Regions from separate parts of the Homo sapiens genome. Here region 1 is linked to region 2. Evidence: fine-mapped expression QTL. A gene starts in region 2. The other region holds a variant in brackets. All regions are shown on one strand. Distances are from middle to middle.

The links. PIP is the estimated chance that this variant, and not a neighbour inherited with it, causes the effect. A credible set is the group of variants that fine-mapping cannot tell apart.
Region 1: its variant is the best candidate, but not a certain one, in a credible set for the expression of TPRG1L in whole blood (TOPMed, PIP 0.51).

What each region holds. Positions count from the first base shown.
Region 1 is chr1:3,643,854-3,649,227 of GRCh38, reverse strand. It overlaps WRAP73 (WD repeat containing, antisense to TP73), which reads left to right. Exons shown (of 12, transcript NM_017818.4): 2 at 1,668-1,820; 3 at 2,446-2,562. Among named protein-coding and RNA genes, the nearest start is that of WRAP73, 3.6 kb to the left of the region's middle. The variant G/A (reference allele first, on the strand shown) is at 2,364.
Region 2 is chr1:3,622,636-3,628,009 of GRCh38, reverse strand. TPRG1L (tumor protein p63 regulated 1 like) reads right to left here and starts at 2,995. Exons shown (of 5, transcript NM_182752.4): 1 at 2,737-2,995; 2 at 2,495-2,586; 3 at 2,121-2,297; 4 at 357-510. The coding sequence starts at 2,937. It also overlaps a transcript of MEGF6 not described here. RefSeq lists enhancers at 1,959-2,621, 3,602-3,721 and a silencer at 2,922-3,151.

The DNA of each region.
Region 1 (5,374 bases), 21 kb before region 2:
GCTATAACTTTAAGCTTCAAAACATATAGTGTATGTACCTGGATGCCTAGTAGTGTATATCCTCAGAAGAGAGGGATAACCCGGATGCCTAGTATGTATGTCCTCAGAAGAGGGGGACAATTGGCATTGGAAAGCCACTAAGAAGAAACATGCCTCGTAAAAAGTGGGCTTCGTTTTCCTTATCCACCACCTGTACTAACTGACTGATGTATCATGATGCTTTTTCAGGTTTTGCCACTCCTGACATTCCTGTGCTCTGTCTAGCTTTTGAGAGTTTAACTCTCAAATTACGTTTTTTACCTCTTCAGGGAGGTTTTATTCCAAATCACATAAAATAGCATCAGCTACAAAACAGAAAACCTCATTAGTTTAAATGGCATCTCAGCCTTGGTATATTTTCAATGTGCCCCCCTCCTCAATTAAATGAGAGGTTTGTTTTTTGTTTTTACCATTTATGAAAATTTCAGTGAATTATAAGGAGAAAGATTACATCTGCTTGCTTAACTTGGGTGTTTTTTTCCAGCTTGTACACTCTGGTCAAAATACCCTGAAACACTTGGTAATGATCTGTTACTGGAATCATCTTCTTGAAAGCCCTGAGGACTGGGGAGAGCAGGTCCATGTTTCTAGTTTTCATATCTTGCAGTAGAGTTTATGTGGTTCCTCAAGGTGTTGGTAAAAATATTCCATTTCATAAGGAATTCACTGTAACTGATCACAGTTTTCAAAGCTACAGTGTGAGAAAGTAAGTGCTGTGGTAGCTCCTTGTTCCAATCTGCCGTCACCCGCCTGTCTCTCTTTTCTCCCACGGAAAACTAACGTGGCTTTCTTTTTTGATATCGGTTCATAAAACACAAACTACTTTGACCTTGATAAGTAAAACTAACGAAGCAGTTAATATTTAAACATCAGTTCTTGATCTTGAAACTGTAGTAAAATATACATTCAGCAGGTGAGTACTCAGGCGTTATTTTTACTTGAAATTGTTTGCTTGGATAGGGACATAATGAACAAATATGGACAAGAAGAAACTATCTTTAAGAAAATAGTACTAACACTTAAACATTTCCCGTTTCGTGTTAGGAATAGGTTAATGGAGATAAATGAGCATTTGCGAAGCATCTTTATGTGTGCAGAAGTGAAAGCCTGTCTTTTGATCTTCTGTTGTTTTGGCTCTGAGTTCGGCACTGCATAAGAAGATTGATGCATTCCTTGCCATTTTCGTTGTCATCTGTGAAGCCTCAATTCTTACCCTTTATAAATTTGAGGAAATTGTCCAAAAGTGTTTATAAAACTAGCAGAGGATTTTGGTTATTAGTTCACAGAAGAGCTTTCTCCCAATGCTACTTCCCATTTAAGTTTAGTTTTTAACATACAGATAAGAAGGGACTTAAAAATGTCTTAAAGCTTTAAGTAGCGAGTTAAAACATACTTTTATACTTTACAATAGAGTATAGCAATATTAAAACCTGGCTTGTATATTTCAACATTACCCTTGTATGAACTGAACTGATCTTTAGGGGCTGGGGATGTCACTGGTGATCTAGACATGAAACCTCTGGCAGGAGAGAAGGCCACAGTCACTGAAGGCCAGGGCAGTAGCATTCCGAAGGCCCCCCTCTTTTGGAGTGGAGAATGTCAGGTGCTTGCTTTCTCATATTTTTTAGGCTTCCTGTGTCCAGTACCGGTTAGTGGTCCGGGATGTGAACACCCTTCAGATCCTTCAGCTGTACACGTGCCTAGACCAGATCCAGCACATCGAGTGGTCGGCAGACTCGCTCTTCATCCTGTGCGCCATGTACAAGCGAGGGCTGGTGCAGGTGTGTGCTGCCGTGTCGCTTAGAATCTGGACACCTTCTGAGGGCCCCTGGGAAGGAGGGGTTTTGTTCTGTGCCTTTCTAGTTTGAAAAAAAAGTCCGTGCAGCTCAAAGCCAGTTTTCTTTTGAAATTATAACGTTCTCTAAAGTTTAAGAACATTTAAACTAAGGAAACTCCAACGTAGTCTTAATTTCTAAGCAATATAGTTGAGAAACGGAGGTGTTGACAGCAATCTAGCCACGCGGATGTGGTGTGTTTCAGGAAGTCCTAAGAAGTCGTGTTTTCTTCTGTGTCCAAAGCTTAACTAAATGAGGTCTTAGGAATGACAATGTGAATAAACAGTTTTAAAACAACAACGAAATGAAATCACCAAGAAGCGTGGCTTACTTTTACACTGGAATCCAGCACCAGCCCTTCATCATGAAAGGTTCTAAAAGACACCCTGTGTGATCGGGTCTCTGCTGGTTTTAAGGGAGTTGTCTCTCGGCGAGGCCTCGCTATAGACTGCTGATGAGTTTGAAGACACCCTGTGCGGTCGGGTCTCC[G/A]CTGCGTTTAAGCGAGCTGTCCTCGCTGTCTCTCGGTGCTGATGAGTTTGCACTTGTGTGTTTCTTTCTTCTCTCAATCCAGGTCTGGTCTTTAGAGCAGCCCGAATGGCACTGCAAAATAGACGAGGGCTCAGCCGGGCTGGTGGCCTCGTGCTGGAGCCCGGACGGGCGCCACATTCTCAACACCACGGAATTCCATGTAAGTGTCAGCCCCAAGACACCTTACTGGCCATGTGATCCTGTCCTCTGCTCTCGAAACAGCTGGGGAGTGCGAGAGGGGGTGTGTTTGGAGTATGCTAGTCTCCCCTTATCCTCAGGGGATGCATTCTAAGACCACCAGGGGATTCAGATTGTACCAAACCCTGTATTTCCTGTGTTTTTTCCTATACAGCATACCTGTGATACATTTAATTTATAAATTAGATACAGTAAGAGATTAGCAACAATCATAGTATAGAACAAGGATAACAATATACTGTTTATAATTGCATGGATAGAAGATTTGGTCTTACTGAAGATCTGAGCAACAACCTCAGCATAGGATTTTTTCTTTCCTTGTTGCGTCAAGAACTTTCAGCTCGTCATTTAAAGGAAGCACTTTGTGGCTTCTCTTTGGCGTATCCAGATTGCGAGCCCCACCGCCCGTGCTTTGGGCTGCTACTGAGTCAGATAAGGGTGTCGTGAACACAGGCACTGTCTGCTGCCCTGGGTCTGATGACTGAGGTGGCTCCCGAGTGGCTGGTAGATTGGCGGGGTTGGAGGGAGCCGGGGAGCGTATATAGTGGTGTGTATATTTTAGGTCAGAGCATTATAAGCCACTAAGTATTATTGTCTGATCTTTTGTCCAGTTTTGAAGAAAAAACATTTTAAAAATCTTAATTTAGATTTTTTAGGATTTCGGCACTCCCTTTAATTCAACGATAGAAAATGCGCTGTGATATGAGCCGGCTCGCACCTTTCCTTCAGGAGCCTGGCCTGGGGGCGTGGCTCGGGGCGGTCGGCAGCCGCCCATTCACCTGCTGTAGGTACCGCACAACAGCCTCCGTGCTGAGCTCAGCGCGGAGGGGAATGTTGACATCCGAGAATAAATCAGAGGGATCTGGGATAGGAGACTGCATTTTAAGTTAAAATTAGGCATATGTCAAGTGTTTAGATACCAGGTCTTTGGTGTCCGCAGTGTCTTTTTAAGATACAGAAAAATGGACGAATTCCTTTAATAATGTGCTTTTCTGATGGAGTTGGATCCCAGTGTTTGGGCCCAAGTCCACTGAGTGCTCATAGCTGTCTGGGCTGCTGGCTGCACCTCGGTAACCCGCCCATCCCGCTGCGCCGCGCACACCACGGGGCAACCCGCCCATCCCGCTGCGCCGCGCACACCACGGGGCAACCCGCCCGTCCCGCTGCACGGCGCACACCACGGGGCAACCCGCCCGTCCCGCTGCGCCGCGCACACCACGGGGCAACCCGCCCGTCCCGCTGCGCCACGCACACCACGGGGCAACCCGCCCATCCCGCTGCGCCGCTCACACCACACTGCAGCCCTCCCGTCCCGCTGCGCCGCGCACACCACGTAGATGATGGCACCTGGGAGGATTTCTCCCAGCGTGTGGCTGCAGATGCTCTGTAGGGTTTCATTCGGCTTTTTTCAAGCTGGCATCGGCTGGGATAAAGTTTTATCCAGCCATGAGGGTTGCTGAATCAACTGCTTCAGATGGCTGGATGGCTTTACATATTTTTCAGTTTCGATTTTAAAAAATACTCCAAATCTAATGTCTGCTATTATGGGCTGTCAGAGAATAAGACAGGAAACAAAGGCCCACCAATGTCTCCGCACTATGTATTGACATTGGAAGGCACTTTCGGCCTGAGTGTTTCAGAGAGGATAATTTGAGCTTTTCACGCAGCCGTGTCTAACAGTCTTCAGGCCTGTAATGCTTTGGGCCCAAATCTGCCCTTGAGAAGGGCTCATGTCATGGGGTCAGCCTTGTTGTATTATCTTATTAAATGGCCCAGAAGGAAAACTACCATCTATAGAGTTTAGAAACCTTAAAAGATGGATAAAAGCCTGGTTTTGTTGAGCATCCCATGTCACACACACCAATATTGAAAACACCTTTGCTACAGAACAAACTGATTTTTCATAGAGTACATTTAGATGACATTGTTCAACCTAAGACTAAGGTCATGACCACTTTGCTGGTGGCCTTAGAGGAAACGTTAAGACCAGGTGGTGGATGAGGACCGGTAACCTCAAGGCATGGGGCATCTTGACCAAGATGTCAAAATGTGTCTCCAGCTTTGCATGCGAACTTTAATGGTTGCAAGTGAGGAAACAAAACCGGAATTCCAGACGTGCTGGCCAGGAAGTGAGCTGCGGGCACCGTCCATCAGTCTCATTCACAAGAGCAAGGACCAGACCCGTTCGAGGATTAGCGGGGCCACTAGGTCCCCTTCTGAAGGCGCGACCCCATGTCCGGGGCTCAGCGGGGCCACTGGATCCCCTTCCGAAGGCGCGACCCCATGTCCGGGGCTCAGCGGGGCCGCTGGGTCCCCTTCCGAAGGCGCGACCCCATGTCCGGGGCTCAGCGGGGCCGCTGGGTCCCCTTCCGAAGGCGCGACCCCATGTCCGGGGCTCAGCGGGGCCGCTGGGTCCCCTTCCGAAGGCGCGACCCCATGTCCGGGGCTCAGCGGGGCCGCTGGGTCCCCTTCCGAAGGCGCGACCCCATGTCCGGGGCTCAGCGGGGCCGCTGGGTCCCCTTCCGAAGGCGCGACCCCATGTCCGGGGCTCAGCGGGGCCGCTGGGTCCCCTTCCGAAGGCGCGACCCCATGTCCGGGGCTCAGCGGGGCCGCTGGGTCCCCTTCCGAAGGCGCGACCCCATGTCCGGGGCTCAGCGGGGCCGCTGGGTCCCCTTCCGAAGGCGCGACCCCATGTCCGGGGCTCAGCGGGGCCGCTGGGTCCCCTTCCGAAGGCGCGACCCCATGTCCGGGGCTCAGCGGGGCCGCTGGGTCCC
Region 2 (5,374 bases):
CTCCTGGTGCGCATCCGCACTGGTCATCTGGCACGGCTGGGTCTGCTGCCACTCTCTGAAGCCCAGCTGGGGCCCTTCCCCACCCAGATCACCATCAGGAGGCCACATTATGGAGCTATGCTAACCAGCAGCCACTGGCCACATGCGGCTACTTTAACATAAATTAACCAGAATTTCTGACAACTTAGGGAATCAACTCTAAAATGAGAGCTTCCTCTCTCATTTCTAGCCACGTCTCAAGTGCTCGGCAGCTCCGCGTGGCCGCCGGACAGTGCAGACCTGAAGTGTCTCCGTGACTGCGGGGGGTGTTTCCATCACTGCGGGGGGCGCGGCTATTTATGTGCCTGTCTTCTTACCTGACACAGAGATGCTGTCTTCTCATCTGCGCCAGCCATCGGGTGTTCTGTGAAAGTGGCATAGGGCACGTTGGTAGACCAGGGATTCCATCTGTTTATGAAGGAAGGACGACTTTGCTTGTCCCACTGAATTCGAATCCCAAAACCTTCTCGCCTGAAAAGTCAGAAGAAATAGCCAGACTTAGCATGGCAGGCCACAGTGCTCTCATGGACAATCTGACAGTCTCATCAGTTAGGAGAATATGACAGCAAAAAGCACACGTTTACAGAAAAGACCTATGACATATCACAATGGAAAACGGCTTGTAGTTTTTATTTTTGTTTTTATTTATTTTTATTTTTTGAGATGGAGTTTTGCTCTTGTTGCCCAGGCTTGAGTGTAGTGGCCTGATGTTGGCTCGCTGCATCCTCCACCTCCTGGGTTCAAGCGATTCTCCCAACTCAGCCTCCGGAGTAGCTGGGATTACAGGCATGCACCACCACACCCAGCTAATTTTGTATTTTTAGTAGAGACAGGGTTTATCCATTTTGGTCAGGCTGGTCTCAAACTCCTGACCTCAGGTGATCCGCCCGCCTCAGCCTCCCAAGGTGCTGGGATTACAGGCGTGAGCCACCGTGCCTGGCCGGCCTGTGGTTTTTAGTAGTAACTTCAATCTCCACTAACAATTGCTTTAAATACTGTGGGTATAAATATGACAAATTAGGTATATTTTGGTTATTAAATGTATTATTTTGGTAATCTTTACATGATTAAAAATTAATAAACAGGAATACTGGCTGGGCACGGTGGCTGACATCTATAATCCCAGCGCTTTGGGAGGCCAAAATGGGCGGATCTCTTGAGCCCAGGAGTTTGAGAACAGCCTGGGCAACCTAGCAAAACCCCATCTCTACAAAAAATACAAAAATTAGCTGGGTGTGGTGGCGGGCACCTGTAGTCCTAGCTACTTGGGAGGCTGAGGTGAGAGGATCACTTAAGCCTAGGAGGTGGAGGATGCAGTGAACCAAGACTGCACCACTGGTGCCTGGGTGACAGAGTGGGACTCCGTCTCAAAAAAAAAAAAAAAAGGGAATAATTATAGATAGGCTAGCCAAATGAGTGAAAAGGAAGTGTAATCTTCCTTTTCCTTATGTCATATTAAATGTTTTAACCAAAAGGTAAAATTTTTATTTTAGCTTCCTGAATCCCCCATCCAAATCTCTCCATCAAAAACCCAAGTTCTACAGCTTAACTGACTGTAGTAATGTTTAGGTTCCTCACGTCAGAAAATTATCCTACAGCAAAAAGATCAACTCCTGAAAGCTGGTCATTAAATATTTCCAAATTTGTCTTTTAGTGGTATCTATAAATTACAACGGGACCCTCCATTTCTCTTTAAAAAATTAGCCAGAGCAAGACTTGATGTGTCATATGCAATCTGTCCCTGGCTGGAGAAAAATGCAGAGTTTGGACTTTTCCTGAAGAACATCCAAGTTCCTTTTTAACACGCTGGGCTCTACTTCAATGCATCCTGAACTCATGTAAGTCTTTTTACTACCAGCCTAATAGCTGCCTTCTGTGCCAGAATTCCTTTTAATGCACTCAATTGCCCAGAAGTCGCTTCTTTTTAAGGAACTTCCCATTGATATTTGGAGCTGGAGCCTTTGTGCTTATAATTAATGACAGAGAAGACACACCGCTTGGGGGGCTGATTTAAAAGGGCTGAATTGTAAGGTCCACTCTGGTGCTTAGGTCCAGTGATACTGGACTCTGAACAGGCTTACTTGTTGAGCGATTTAGGGGGAAACTGGAATTCTCCGTAGGAAATGGTGTCTACTGCGTTGAGCGCTATCCGCACCACCTGCTGGCACTGGAGACTGATGAAGTCGTATTTACAGATAAGCAGGGACTGCTCCGTGACCAGCACCAGCCGCTCCTTCTCATTGTTCCAGTGATCCACCCTGTAGGCAGAGGAGGGGCCTCAGTCCACACTGGACGCGGCTGTCTCGACTTAGCCAAGGCCAGCCCGCCTGGAAGGGCAGCAGGGGCGGCACGGGGCGCCTGAGCGTGGCACGAGCACCCCGGGAAGTCCTCGCAAGGTGCTGCGCGGCGGCTCGGGGCGAGTCCCCCCACCAAGGAGAGCGCAGCCCCGGCTTACTCGGTAAGCAGCCACACTCCCTGGATCTCGCCGTCCTCCACGGGCCGCACCACCACGCGGATCTCCTCCACTGCCTGCTCGATGCTGCCGGGCTGGGCGGGTTGCGGGGTGGGGGACGGGGGCAAAGATCACAGGTCACAGCTCGCTCCCTGCGGGACCGCCCGGCGCCCGCCTCCGACCCCACCCGCCCCCATCCCGCCCCGCGCCCTCGGCCCCCGCCCCGGCCCTGGCCCCTGCCTCACCCGGAACACGAAGTACTCCTTGACGCGGGCGCGGCGCGTGGGGTCGTGGATGCTGAGAGGCCAGAGTGTCTGGCGCAGCGGCGTCCCCGCCCCCGGCCGCCCCCCGCCCGGGCCGCCGCCTGCCCCCACCTCCTCGCCGGCCGCCAGCACCGCCGTGGGGCTCGTACCGGCCGAGTCCACCGAGTCCCGCAGTTGCAGCATTGCCGCACCCCTTACCGACCCCGACCCTGACGCCGACGCGACCGCCGTCGCCGCAGCCACCGCCACCACCCGGCCGCGCCCCCGGCCCCGCCCCGCGGACCGCCGCGATTGGCTCCGCCTTGCCGGCCCCGCCTCTGGCTCCGCCCCTTCCCGCGTCCGCCGACCCTCGGGATTGGCTCTCCTCCTGCCGTTTTCCGCGATTGGCTCTGCCCCGCCGCCGTTCACAATCGCTCCCGCCCCTCGCCGGGCCGGAAGCGACCGTCACGCGCAGGCTCACTTCCTGTTTACACAACGAGAAGGGGCGGGGCCGAAGCCGGTTGCCAGGGTGTCGCGGAGCGGCTGGGAAGGAGGGGCTGGGAATCTTGGAGCCCCTTGGCCCGCGGGGAAAGCGGGTGACCCGCCCTGCAAGTGGGATGCCCCCTTCGGCCTTCTGGAGCGCAGGTGGGGGCGCGCGCCCATCGGGGGCTCGCACTGCACGGAGGGTCGCGGTGCCGGGGAGCTGAGGTTGGAGGATGCAGGGCGGCGGCCCTGGTGCACCGTGGGGGAGTTCGCACGCCGGGCAGCGATCTTCTGCCGGGACCTGGCGTTCTTCACACACGGCTTATTCGTGACGGATCCACAGAGCAATGCACTCTGAAGCCGGAGGGTAGAAAGTGCTGGAATGCGCGCCCGGGCCCAGGCTGTCGCGAGCCTTCAGCAAGCCAGTGCACACAGAGAGGGCTGCCCAGAGATCCCGGTCAGCGCTCGCAGTTCGAGGTGGAACATGTGTGTGCCCTGCGCTAGCCCCAGCTCCCGGAGGTGCCCCCAGCGCGTGTGGAGGGGGGCGGTGAACGGACCCGCAATCTGGTGGAGGCTGCGGGAAGGAGGCGCAGAGTCCAGGGGTCAGGGTTACCTTCGGGCAGGAGGACAGATCCCTCTGCTCGGAGGTGAGGAAGACACACGAGGCGAGGTGCACACAGGCGAGGAGAGTGAGATGGGGGGAGAATGAGGAGTTCAGGATACATCTGTTTACTTCAGTCAGGGAGTGGGGATGGAGCGGAGTATTTGTAAAGATGGACGGTTTAGAATCGCCGGGATGAGAACCGGGCAGGGAGCTGATCAGGGAAGGGCATGGGGATCTCTGAGCAGCTGGGAGACCCCAGGGAAGTTTGCAGTGGCGCCTCCCACGCGGCAGCTGGGGGAGTGGAAGAAACCAATGCTGGCTGGTCTAGATGGAGGAGTTTGCTGGGTAGCGGTGGTCAAAGACCAGAGAGAAAAGGGAGGCCAAAATCCTAGAGGGAGTGTTGCCCAAGAATGGTGGAGTGCAGGGATTCTGCCCCACTTGCCAGCAGACAGGCCAGGCTGCCAAAGTTGCATGGGCGCTGGCAGAAAGACCCAATACCCCTGGAGTCAGAGAGGAAAGACTACAACAGGAAACGGGCGACGCTGGTGTGCCCAGACGCATGTTGCACCACAGCGGGTGCACTACAAAACAGGACCCTGGATCCTGTGGACCAATGTGGTCTTTGTCCCACAGGGAGGCTGTCTCCCCGGCAAGGGTGCCCACTGCAAGCACAGGCGTGAGAAATGGCCCAGAAAAGAGTGGTCAGGGCAATGTGTTCTTGGCACGCCCAGCAAGACCTGCCAGAGGGACCTACAGACGAGTGTCTCCCAGCTATCTTACCAGCGGGGACCTTGAGGTCCAAGTATCCAGTCCGGTTAGAAATGGCCGCGGATCCAACAGGTGCTGGTGAGTGGGAGAATACCCCTGAGGGAGGAAGAACAGAGGCCGGGAGGGAGCTGAGTGGATGTAGATGAGAAATACCTGGACAGCTGCAAGCTGTAGTCAGTGATGGGCAACTGGAACCAGAGATTCCAGAGAGAGGGAGGGAGAAAGAGGGAGGAGAAGGGAGAATGAGAAAGAGAGGGAGAGAGAATGGGGGGGAGAAAGAGGGAGAATGGGGGAGAGAGGTAGGAGCAAGTTCTGGACCACGCCAAGGATGGAGCTGTGGTCCTGGAACCAGATGTCCAGGGAATGGGATGAAGTGACACTGGCTGGGGCCGAGGCTGCAGACTGCTGGTGGGAGCTGGCAGGACAATGAGGATTCTGAACCAGGTGCCTGAGCCTTCTGTGGATATGGGGAGTGACTTGGATGTCTATAAATTCCAGAAATGATAGGAGGGATAGATGATGGAGGGACTGTATTTTAGACAATAAACAAATTTCACTCAGTATGGATGAGTTTCCTGGGGCTTCTGTCACAATGCATCACAAACTGGTTTTAAAAACAACAACTGTTTTAAAAACAACAGAAACGTGTTTCCTCATAGCCCTGGAGGCCAGAAGTGCAAAATCAAGGAGTGTGCAGGGCCATGCTCCCTCTGCAGCCCTGAGGGTTGACGCATGTCTTGCTCTGCCAGGCCTGCTTGGTGTCCTGGGCTTGCTCATGCACTGCTC